3 separate regions of the Homo sapiens genome follow, and regions 1 and 3 are each reported to be linked to region 2. The links are microRNA targets in miRTarBase. Many come from high-throughput screens and were not tested one by one. Region 2 holds a microRNA gene; each other region holds the end of a gene's coding sequence. Distances are from middle to middle.

The links. The annotated mature microRNA hsa-miR-4735-3p reads AAAGGUGCUCAAAUUAGACAU and lies in region 2 at 909-929, shown strand. An mRNA with a match to its seed (bases 2 to 7 or 8) in the 3' UTR can be bound and repressed. Matches are read on the target gene's strand: a 7mer-m8 pairs with bases 2 to 8, a 7mer-A1 pairs with bases 2 to 7 and ends in A, and an 8mer does both.
Region 1: the mRNA of MBD1 is a reported target of hsa-miR-4735-3p. The part of its 3' UTR that is shown has no 7-base or 8-base seed match.
Region 3: the mRNA of ZNF670 is a reported target of hsa-miR-4735-3p. Seed matches in the 3' UTR shown: 7mer-A1 at 1,655-1,661.

Annotation. Positions count from the first base shown.
Region 1 is chr18:50,268,865-50,271,953 of GRCh38, reverse strand. It overlaps MBD1 (methyl-CpG binding domain protein 1), which reads left to right. Exons shown (of 17, transcript NM_015846.4): 16 at 414-485; 17 at 2,136-3,089. The coding sequence ends at 453. Among named protein-coding and RNA genes, the nearest start is that of CFAP53, 3.9 kb to the right of the region's middle.
Region 2 is chr1:196,580,158-196,583,345 of GRCh38, reverse strand. It overlaps MIR4735 (microRNA 4735), which reads left to right and starts at 865; the gene lies at 865-933. All of the region lies in intron 1 of KCNT2 (potassium sodium-activated channel subfamily T member 2), which reads left to right.
Region 3 is chr1:247,034,908-247,037,996 of GRCh38, forward strand. ZNF670 (zinc finger protein 670) reads right to left here. Exons shown (of 4, transcript NM_033213.5): 4 at 1-3,089. The coding sequence ends at 2,542. All of the region lies in intron 1 of ZNF670-ZNF695 (ZNF670-ZNF695 readthrough (NMD candidate)), which reads right to left. Among named protein-coding and RNA genes, the nearest start is that of ZNF695, 28 kb to the left of the region's middle.

The DNA.
Region 1 (3,089 bases), not on the chromosome of region 2:
ATATTGACAGACCCTGCATAGAGCCCCAGACACTGGCGATGTAAACTATTGGCCTAAGCACTTGGATTCCTTTGCTCCTACAAACCAGCCCACCAGGCTAGAAACCCTTTCATCTATACTTGGCCAATTACAGAAGTATTGATTGAGTTCCTGTTGGGTGCACAGCATTGAGGACAATGAGCCCTGCAAAGCTTACCCTTCAGGAGACACAGGATACCTACCTTCAGGGAGCTTATAATCTGACTATGTACAAGCTGTCTATAATGGTAGTTTTTAGAAGATATAAAAAAAGATAAAGGATAATTAAGGGGAAGTGGATGGAGGACACAGAATAGTAGGAAATGGTTTTGTAATGCTCCATTGCGCACATAGCAAACCTCATTCAACATACAGACCTGCTCCCTTTTCCCTAGGTCCAAAGACCTTAAAAAACCTGGAGCTAGAAAGCAGTAGACTGGAGGCTTCTACAGACTGTAGGATTCAAGGTGATATTTGCAGACTGGCTTTATGAGAGACAACACTGATCTACTAGGGGCTGGACCCTAGATTGGTTGCCAGGGCTTGTGTGTGAATCAACCCTAGGAGGAAAAACCTACTACCAAACCAGAAGAGCAGGCCTAAGAGTACTTTGAGCTTCTAGAAGAAGTAAGCGGGAAAGGAAGAGAAAGAGTAGAAAGTTGGTGCATCTTCTCCTCCCCAAGAGCCTGAGTATAAGAAGTTGGATTTTAAGGGTGGGGGAGCTGGGTTGGAGAAAGGTAATATAATTAAAGCCACCACAAAACAACCTAAACAAGCCATGTTCATGAGTAATTGTAAGTGGCTTCTGGATGAGACCTGGCAGTGTCTCTACATACTTCCTCAGGGAGATAGCAATTGAAAATGTAATTGAATAAATAAGGAAAGGAACTGCTATTTGGTGTGTTCCTCTGTGGACCCAGTTTATTTAATCCTTAAAATAATATTTTTGGGAAGACATTGATTTTGTCCATTTATGTGGATGGGAAAACTGAGACTCATTAATTTGTCCAATGTCGAACAGCTGGTGTTAGTAGAGCCTAGACTCAAACCCAGCTTTTAAAGCCCTTGTTCTTTACTCCACTAAACTGTAACCTGTAATCCTGTATGCACTAACAGGAGTTTTCGGTGACCTTGAAAACACAGATTACTATAATTACTATAATAAATCCCTTACATTCCTGTCTCTAGCATGGTTTAGGGAGTGCCAAGGCTCAATGTAGATGGGGTCACCTTGTCAGAGCATCTGTTCATACAGAAACTGGGTTTCCTGCAGACCCCAGGTGCTGCATAGGATTCCTCAAACCCTACAGGATATATCTCCCCACTGGCTGCTGTCCATTTTGCTTGTTACCCTGACTCCCCCTCTTCAGCCAGAGCAGTCTTTGTAACTAAAGCTGCCAGCCTGGCTCATCTTTCCTGACAACGTGCATCTCCTGCCCTGTGATCACCTTTGTGCTTGGCTCCTGCCCTCAGCCTGAATGTGTTCTAGGAGGCTGAATTCCTGCTTCGAGTCCTGCCCAAGAGCCAGTCTTGGCTCAGCCCTACCTCACTCTCTCCCAATTCTTCATTCATAAAGTGCCAAAAAGATTAGACCTGTAATTTGTTAGCCAGCTTTACAGGGCCAGGACTGAGTGAGTGCCTCCTTAAACTTTGTATCCTGTGTGCCTCCCTTGCCTTACCCTAGTCCCAGCCCTGCAGCTTTAAGTAATTCAGACATGGATTAGCCATTTCCCAGTTCTGTCTCATACAGTCCAGCCTCTGCCACCTTCCCCACCCCTTCCTTTATTCCATCCTAACTAGTTCAGCCCTAGTCAAGACTGGATAGACTGATACTGCTTTGTTTCCCCCAGGAACCAACCACCCAACCCCAGTATTCTGGTAATTTTGACAATGATCTATATGAAATTTATTTGATTGACATTTAGACTCATGAGTTAAGCTTCTGCTGACCATTTATGTTAGGGTACAATCAGAGGAGCAGAACCACTAAGATAAAGATTATGTATATATGTATTTTAAGGGATTTATTATAGGGATCTGACCGCATGCCATTGTGGGAGCTGGTTAAACAGTCTCTGTAAGGCTGTTGTCTTTGCATCTAATGCTGGAGCTTGAAGTCTGCAGGGCAGGCACTCGGGAAGGGAAGATGGATGTAAAGTGTGGGAGACCGAGGACACAGTGGAGCCCACGAGCACGAGCTGGAACCCACGAGGATGGCCTGGAACCCATGTCAGTCTCTCACCACCTCCAGCTTCGATGATGTGGGTGTCCTGCAGAAGAAGCTGGTGCCCTTCCTCACAGAGTTAAATATGCATCTGGCCCAGGAATTAGAGAAGCTGAAAGGATGATCCTGGGGAAGGTGGAGCAGCTGCAGGCCTGGCTGCAGGCCTGACTACTGCCCACACCAACGAGGTGATCTAGCAGATACATGGCAACGTGTGAACTGCAACAACGCCTGGTGCCCCAGCACCAACCTTCCAAGTGTAAAAACAATGTGCTGCTGCTTCACTTCCGCCCTCCGGTTATCAAGCAAAATGTCTCTTGTGGCCCATCTTACTGGAAGAGAGTTCCGGGAAACATAGCCTCACCAAGGTGACACATTACAAAGCCACCCTACCATGAATCCGCTCCCAAGGGTCTCACTGCTCACCTGAGGATAACTCAATATAACTATGTGGCTGAAAATGCAAAGCTGAAGACCATGGATTTCATGGTGATTCCAGCAAGTACAGAGATTCTATGAAGCCCACCCAGAAAAAACTTGCTGGTCCTGGCTATTTTTGTGTCATTTATTCAAGTATTGAGAACCTGGCCTGTGGTAGGCACTGTACTTAATACTAGGATACAGAAATGCAAAAGATACGGCCCATGCAATTTTATTAAATGCATCAATATGTATTACAAATGGTGAATGGATTTCCAACTTTATCATGGAATTTAATGCTGAATATATAGAATTCAGAAAATTGTTGGGAGGACAGCCCTTTTGTGAACCTTGTTTGGGGCACAGTAGGAATTGGAAATAATTTAGTTTCTATCTCTAAGCTGTTCTATTTTAAAATTATTTTTAA
Region 2 (3,188 bases):
TATTTACCCTCTGGTATTTTTTGTGTTTAAATATGGTACCAACATGCAACCAGCCACCCAAGGCTGGATTATTAAATTCTTTTTAAAGCTTGGTTCACTACAGATCTCATTGATTCAATTCATAGATGGCTCAAATTGTTGTCCTCATGAGTCCATTTTAATTATTACGCTTCTAATTAATGTGCCTGCCTTTCTCATCTGAACTCTTGAGAGGTGTTTTAATTTTTCTGCCTCAGGTCTTCCTTCTGGCTGCCATTGGACAATTCCTCTCTCTGGAATGAATAACAACCTCTGAAGACATCCCACTCCACCTCTACATGTCACATGATATTCACCTATTTTTTGACCAGTTATCACTTACATAATCTTTATCTCAGCATTTTAGGAAGGCTTTTTCGCTATGCAAATCTCTGTATTTTATAATCCTGTATAATTATATTTTATAATCCTGTATAATTATATTTTATAATCCTATGCAATCTGTATTATCTTCTGTATTTTATGCTTTTCAAACCTTTATTGTACTCTATTTGTTCTACTTTATTTAGTTTGGACAAGCTGAAGCAGGTGACATGGTTCATCTGTATCCTTGCCTGATGCATCACTGAAATGTAAATGAATTGGTGGTGAGAGAATAATTCAAAGGACTCAGTGTTTGAACCAAGCCTAGTCAATGCTGTCAATGCTGCTGTATCTTGGGTGTTTGTGGAGGCACTAAGGTAGTGGCCAGGACTGAAGAAATTGGGAACTTGACCTTATAAGGCAGCTACAAAACTTGCCCTCTATCATTCTAACCAACCCTTCCAAACTTCTAAAAATCTCAGCTCCACTTCTGCAAGTTTATCTTCCCTGCTTGCATAAAATTGCAGTGCCTAATTTGAACACCTTCGGTATTCATCAAAAATACCAAAGGTGCTCAAATTAGACATTGCATTTTTTGCGCATGTCAAGTTGAAATCTATTCATGGATCTTTAGCTCCTTAAGAGAACATGCATATAACATTACTTTTTACTAGCATTCTTCCAAGTACTTTACATGCCCAACGAGAAAGCATAATATTATCCCCATTGTACAGCTGAAGAAACAGGCATAGAGAAGTTAAGTAATCCGTTGGTGATTACAAAGCTAGAAAATGGCAGAGCCAGGAACTTGAACCCTGTTTTTCTTGGCCATTAGGCTTGCTGGAAGGGGATACTAAGATGTAGGAAGGGAAGGTGGAGATGAGGGTCTTTGTTGATTTTCCTAAAAAAGTTGGCGTTGTACTGGCATATGGAGAGAAGTTGATAAGTAAATATTAAATACATACATGTTGGTTTTGAAATATATGATAAGACTTTTTAAAGTCTACCTGAAGAACTGGCAGTATTATTGGTTCTCCCACAGAATTTTCTTATGAAAGACATAATTTTCCTGAAATGTGAACATAGAGGCATTTGTGATGCCTATTATCCAGCTGTCATCTGTCTATTCATGTTGTACACATCTACTATAATTTAAATAGGAGAACAACAAAATGAAAGACTTAGTTTTCAAAACATAAGTAATGGAAGAAAGTGAATTTGATATATTTTTATGACAGCTTTTAGTAAATACTTTTAAAATGAACTGAAGTTAATTTATGCTTGAGTGGGATTTCTTTCTCTTTTTGGAAAGTTTTTATAAATAAATGAAAGAAAATATGTTCTTACTAATAACAGTTTCCCCTCCATCTTTCCCCCATCTCCTTAGGATACTTGTGGAATGTCTCTAGAGTGAGTCGGCCACTGAGAGGACTTTGTATTGTGTTAACTTCATTATATTGAAATTTTGGAATAGCCTCAGGGAATAAGGGACAGAAAAAAATGGGGCAATATTCACCCGGTGGCATTCATTTTCAGTAAAGAGCAAGTAAAACCCTTTATTAAATTTAATGTTTTATTTTTGCTTAGTTTGGAATATACATGTGTATTTCACATATATAAAAATAGAACTTTTTTTACTAAACTGGTCCAGATCTAGATATTTATAGGCATATGGAATTTGGAGGTTACAAAATTAACTTCTAAGAATAAATATTTCCTACTCCTCAAGTATCATGTAAGAATAATTTTTCTATGACAATAAAAAAAGCGAAACACTACAATCTGACCCATATTTTCTTGCCACAGATTAGCATTTATGTGATCTTATTCTAAGCCTATGTGGTACAGAAAGGTAAAAATGCTAAAAGAATGACTATATCACATATATACTAATATTTCAATGTTTAATTTTCTGAAAAAAAAACTGTACGTTTTGTAAATAGCTGTAGCAGCTATAGTCAAGATGATTTCTTGAGAAGAAATTACCTGTTCTTTAAAAAATGTTCTTGCCAAAATAATGATTGTACATAGCTCAAAAATCAGCTATTATTAGAAGGCTTACAAGAAAACAAGAACAAGTAAAACAACAATAACAAAAACCATCTGGCCCCTGCCTTCACCTTGTCAGCTTTTCCATGATGTACTTTTCAGAAAGAAACACTTTGAAGCCTTTTGAGTGTTTTTCCCTGCTTTTATTCTCTATAGTCAGTTTCACAGTTTCTCAATTTGAGGGAGTATTCATTGACTTCCTACTATGAAATATAAGGATTTAGCAGTCTAACTATACCATCACAACACACATCTCACTCCCCATTCTTCCAATACAGTAATTATTTTTGTTTAGAGCAATACCATGTATGCATATTATATGACTATTTCAGTTTTGCTCAGAACTGAGTAATGAGTATTATGATTATCATTTTCTTATTCAACTGTCTTTGTTTCTAAGTATATACACATTTTCATTTTGTTGTCTGCTAAGTTTTCTAGTTACCTATTGATAGTGTTTCACCAAGCACTGTGGTAGAACTATAAAGCCTTTCTCAGGGTAATCAAACACATCAGACAGTGTACCTGTGGGGAAGGTCCAGGTTATGCTGTGGAAAGAAACACTCTCAGATCCTCCGTGGTTCTCTTCTGTGGAGTTACTCAGGAACTCCCTCCCCTCCCACTGAACCATCTTCAAGCTTCATTCTGTACCCACATTTCTGTGGGATTGTTTATCACTTTTTTCTCTGTTGAGCTGGGGCTTCCATTCTATTATTTCTTCCATTTAGTATTTCTGGAGCTGGGACTTCCATTCATAATAAATCCATTATCTTAGGAATGCTCTTCACTTTCTTTAC
Region 3 (3,089 bases), 50 Mb from region 2:
CTTGGAAACTGCCTGCCAAACACAGGTCAAGGTGGAACATACATCCTCCTGGGGAACGGCTGGTCAACCAGTCATGTCTAGGAGTTGAGAGTTCTACTGTGGGAAGAGGTGGCAACAGCTGATAACACAAAGCACTGTGTAGACCAAAGTGAAAGTCCACCATCAATTGCTGTTTCTAATTCAGGTGACTTCTGTTATATTATGGAACCAGTTAGACAAAAGCAGGTAGTTAAAGCTGAAAAGATATCATCAGTCATGGTTGGTTCATTCTGTTGGTAATGCCAATTGTTTTCACAGTCTCATGGGTGACAGGAAAAATTAGGACCCTAAGACTACTGGGAAAAACACGTGACACCCATGAGTGTACAGATAAGATTGAGAGAAGTTATTAGTTACATACATTCATAGACAAAAAAGGGAGGGTTCTGTAAACGAGGCTGGTCCACACAAGACTTGCACTACGGAGCAGATAGAACAAACAGGGTGTAAGGGGAATGCTTTGTAGTATCAAGAACGTGAGATGCTTCTTGGTTCTCATAAGGATGCAATTGGTTTGTTTAAATGCATCTGTGGAATGGTAGGCAACTGAAATATGTTAGGCTACAGACTGATAAGATCAAAATAGTATGTTATAATGCCATAATCCTGTAATATACAATTTATTGTAGTGCTAATTACACATAATATAAACTAGTTATGCATAATTCATAGTAACTTACAAAACTGTACTATACCACATATTATATAGCTACTTATACACATATAAGTATACATGTAGACATGCTATATATACAGATGATGCTATACTATATGGTATACTAGGGCACACCAATTTGACTATAAATGCAAAAGGCCCCAACAATACACTGGAAAATTGAACGTTATCAATATGGGTTGAGTGTTTCTTATCTGAAATACTTGGGAACGGAAGTGCTTTGGATTTCAGACTTTTAACATTTTGGAATATTTGCAGAAAACTTACTGGATGAGCATCCCTAATCCAAATATCAAAAATCCTCTAATGAGCATTTCTGTTGAGCATAAGACTGGTGCTCAAACAGTTTTTGACTTCGGAGCATTTCAGATTTGGTATTGGAATCTGGGGTTTACAGATGTTCAACCTGTAGATAAAATACTTATATTCCATGATGAAGACAAATTTCACCCAGATAACCATAATATATTTATATCTGAAAGCCAGTTAACGTAATAGACTATCAGTAGAATGCCAAAAACCACAAATCATCTCAATAGATGCAGAAAAAAACATGTCATAAGAGTTCAACACTCCTTTACCATGAAACAATAAATAAAAAACACAAGAAAACTTCCTGAGCCTGTTTGAGAATATTTATGAAAAATCCACAATATACTTGATGGTGAGACTGAATGCTTTCACACGCAGATTAGACAAGCATACTGTCCAATCACAGTTCTCTCTTCTTAATTCAAAGTAAAAAGTGGGCCAGGTGTGGTAGCTCATGTCAGTAACCCCAACATGTAGACAGGCTGAGGCAGGAGGATAGCTTGAGGCCAGGAATTCAATACCAGCCTAGACAATACAGCGAGATCCCATCTCTATAAAAAATTTTTAAAATTATATAATTAGCTGAGCATGGTGGCATGTGTCTGTAGCTCCAGCTACATAGGAGGCTAAGGTGGGAGAATCACTTGAGCCCAGGAATTTGAGGCTGCAGTGAGCTAAGACTATTATTACCACTACACTTCAGCCTAGCTGACAAAGTGAGACCCTCTCTAAAAACATAACATTTTTTAAAAAAGTGAACTATGCAAGTAACAGCCAAAACTCATGACAGAATAAAGGAAAGAAAATGAAAATAACAATGTACATGAGACTATATAAACTTCACATACATGCAAATTAATAACAATTCTTTATTAGCAAAGAAAACAGAAGAAAATCTTTACAACAAAAAAGTAGTTTTCCCATAAAAAGGTAGAATACACACACACACACACACACACACACACACACATGAACTCATTTTTCATTGGTCCATTAATTAGAGAACAATTAAACAACTACATGAAAATTAAAATTGCCTACTATTAGAAATACATTTCAACTTAGTCTAGGGATCCAACAAATTTTTAAATGAATAGACAAAAATTATGTTAACTGATGAGAAACAAAACACAGCCTATTAAGCTCATGTACTATGGCTTATAAAGTATCTGTGAAATTCTCAGCTCCATGATTCCCTGCAAAAAACTGAAAATCTAAAGTATAGACACCTTCTTTAACAATGAACCACTGATAAAAATATATTTGAAAGCGGCTGGGAAAATAAAGTGTTCTAACACATTTTTCGTATTTTATGACGTTCTTTCCCAGGACGGGTCCTTCTAAGTTTTAGAAGGGAACTAGGAAAATTGCATACATTCTAATCTTCCTTACATGTGTTGGGTTTCTCTCTAATTTGAGTTTTTAATTTTTTCACGTGTTCTAATGAAACTAGAATAACTGAAAGCTTTAACACACTTCTTACATTGACAGAGGTGTTTTGTTGTTGTTGTTTTTTACCACATATAAGCTCTTTCATGCTTTCGAAGGGAACTGGAACAACTGAAGGCTTTACCACATTTCTTACATTCATAGGGTTTTTCTCCAGTATGAGTCCTTTCATGGCTTCGAAGGGCACTGGAAGAAGTAAACGACTTACCACATTCCTTACATCCATAAGGTTTCACTCCAGTGTGAGTTCTTTCATGCTCACATAGGTTACTAGAATATTTGAAGGCTTTACCACATTGTTTACATTCATAGGGCTTTTCTCCACTGTGAGTCCTTTCATGGACTCTGAGGACTCTGGAACATCTAAAGGCTTTGCCACATTTTATACATTCATAGGGTTTTTCTCCAGTATGCGTTCTTTCATGTATTCCCAAGTAAGTGGAACGACTGAAGGCTTTGCCACATTCCTTACATTCATAGGGTTTCTCTCCAGTATGAGATCTTTCATGTTGGCGAAGAGAACTGGAAAAAGTGAATGATTTACCACATTTCTTACATGCATAGGGTTTCTCTCCAGTATGAGTTCTTTCATGTTCACGAAGATAACTTGAAT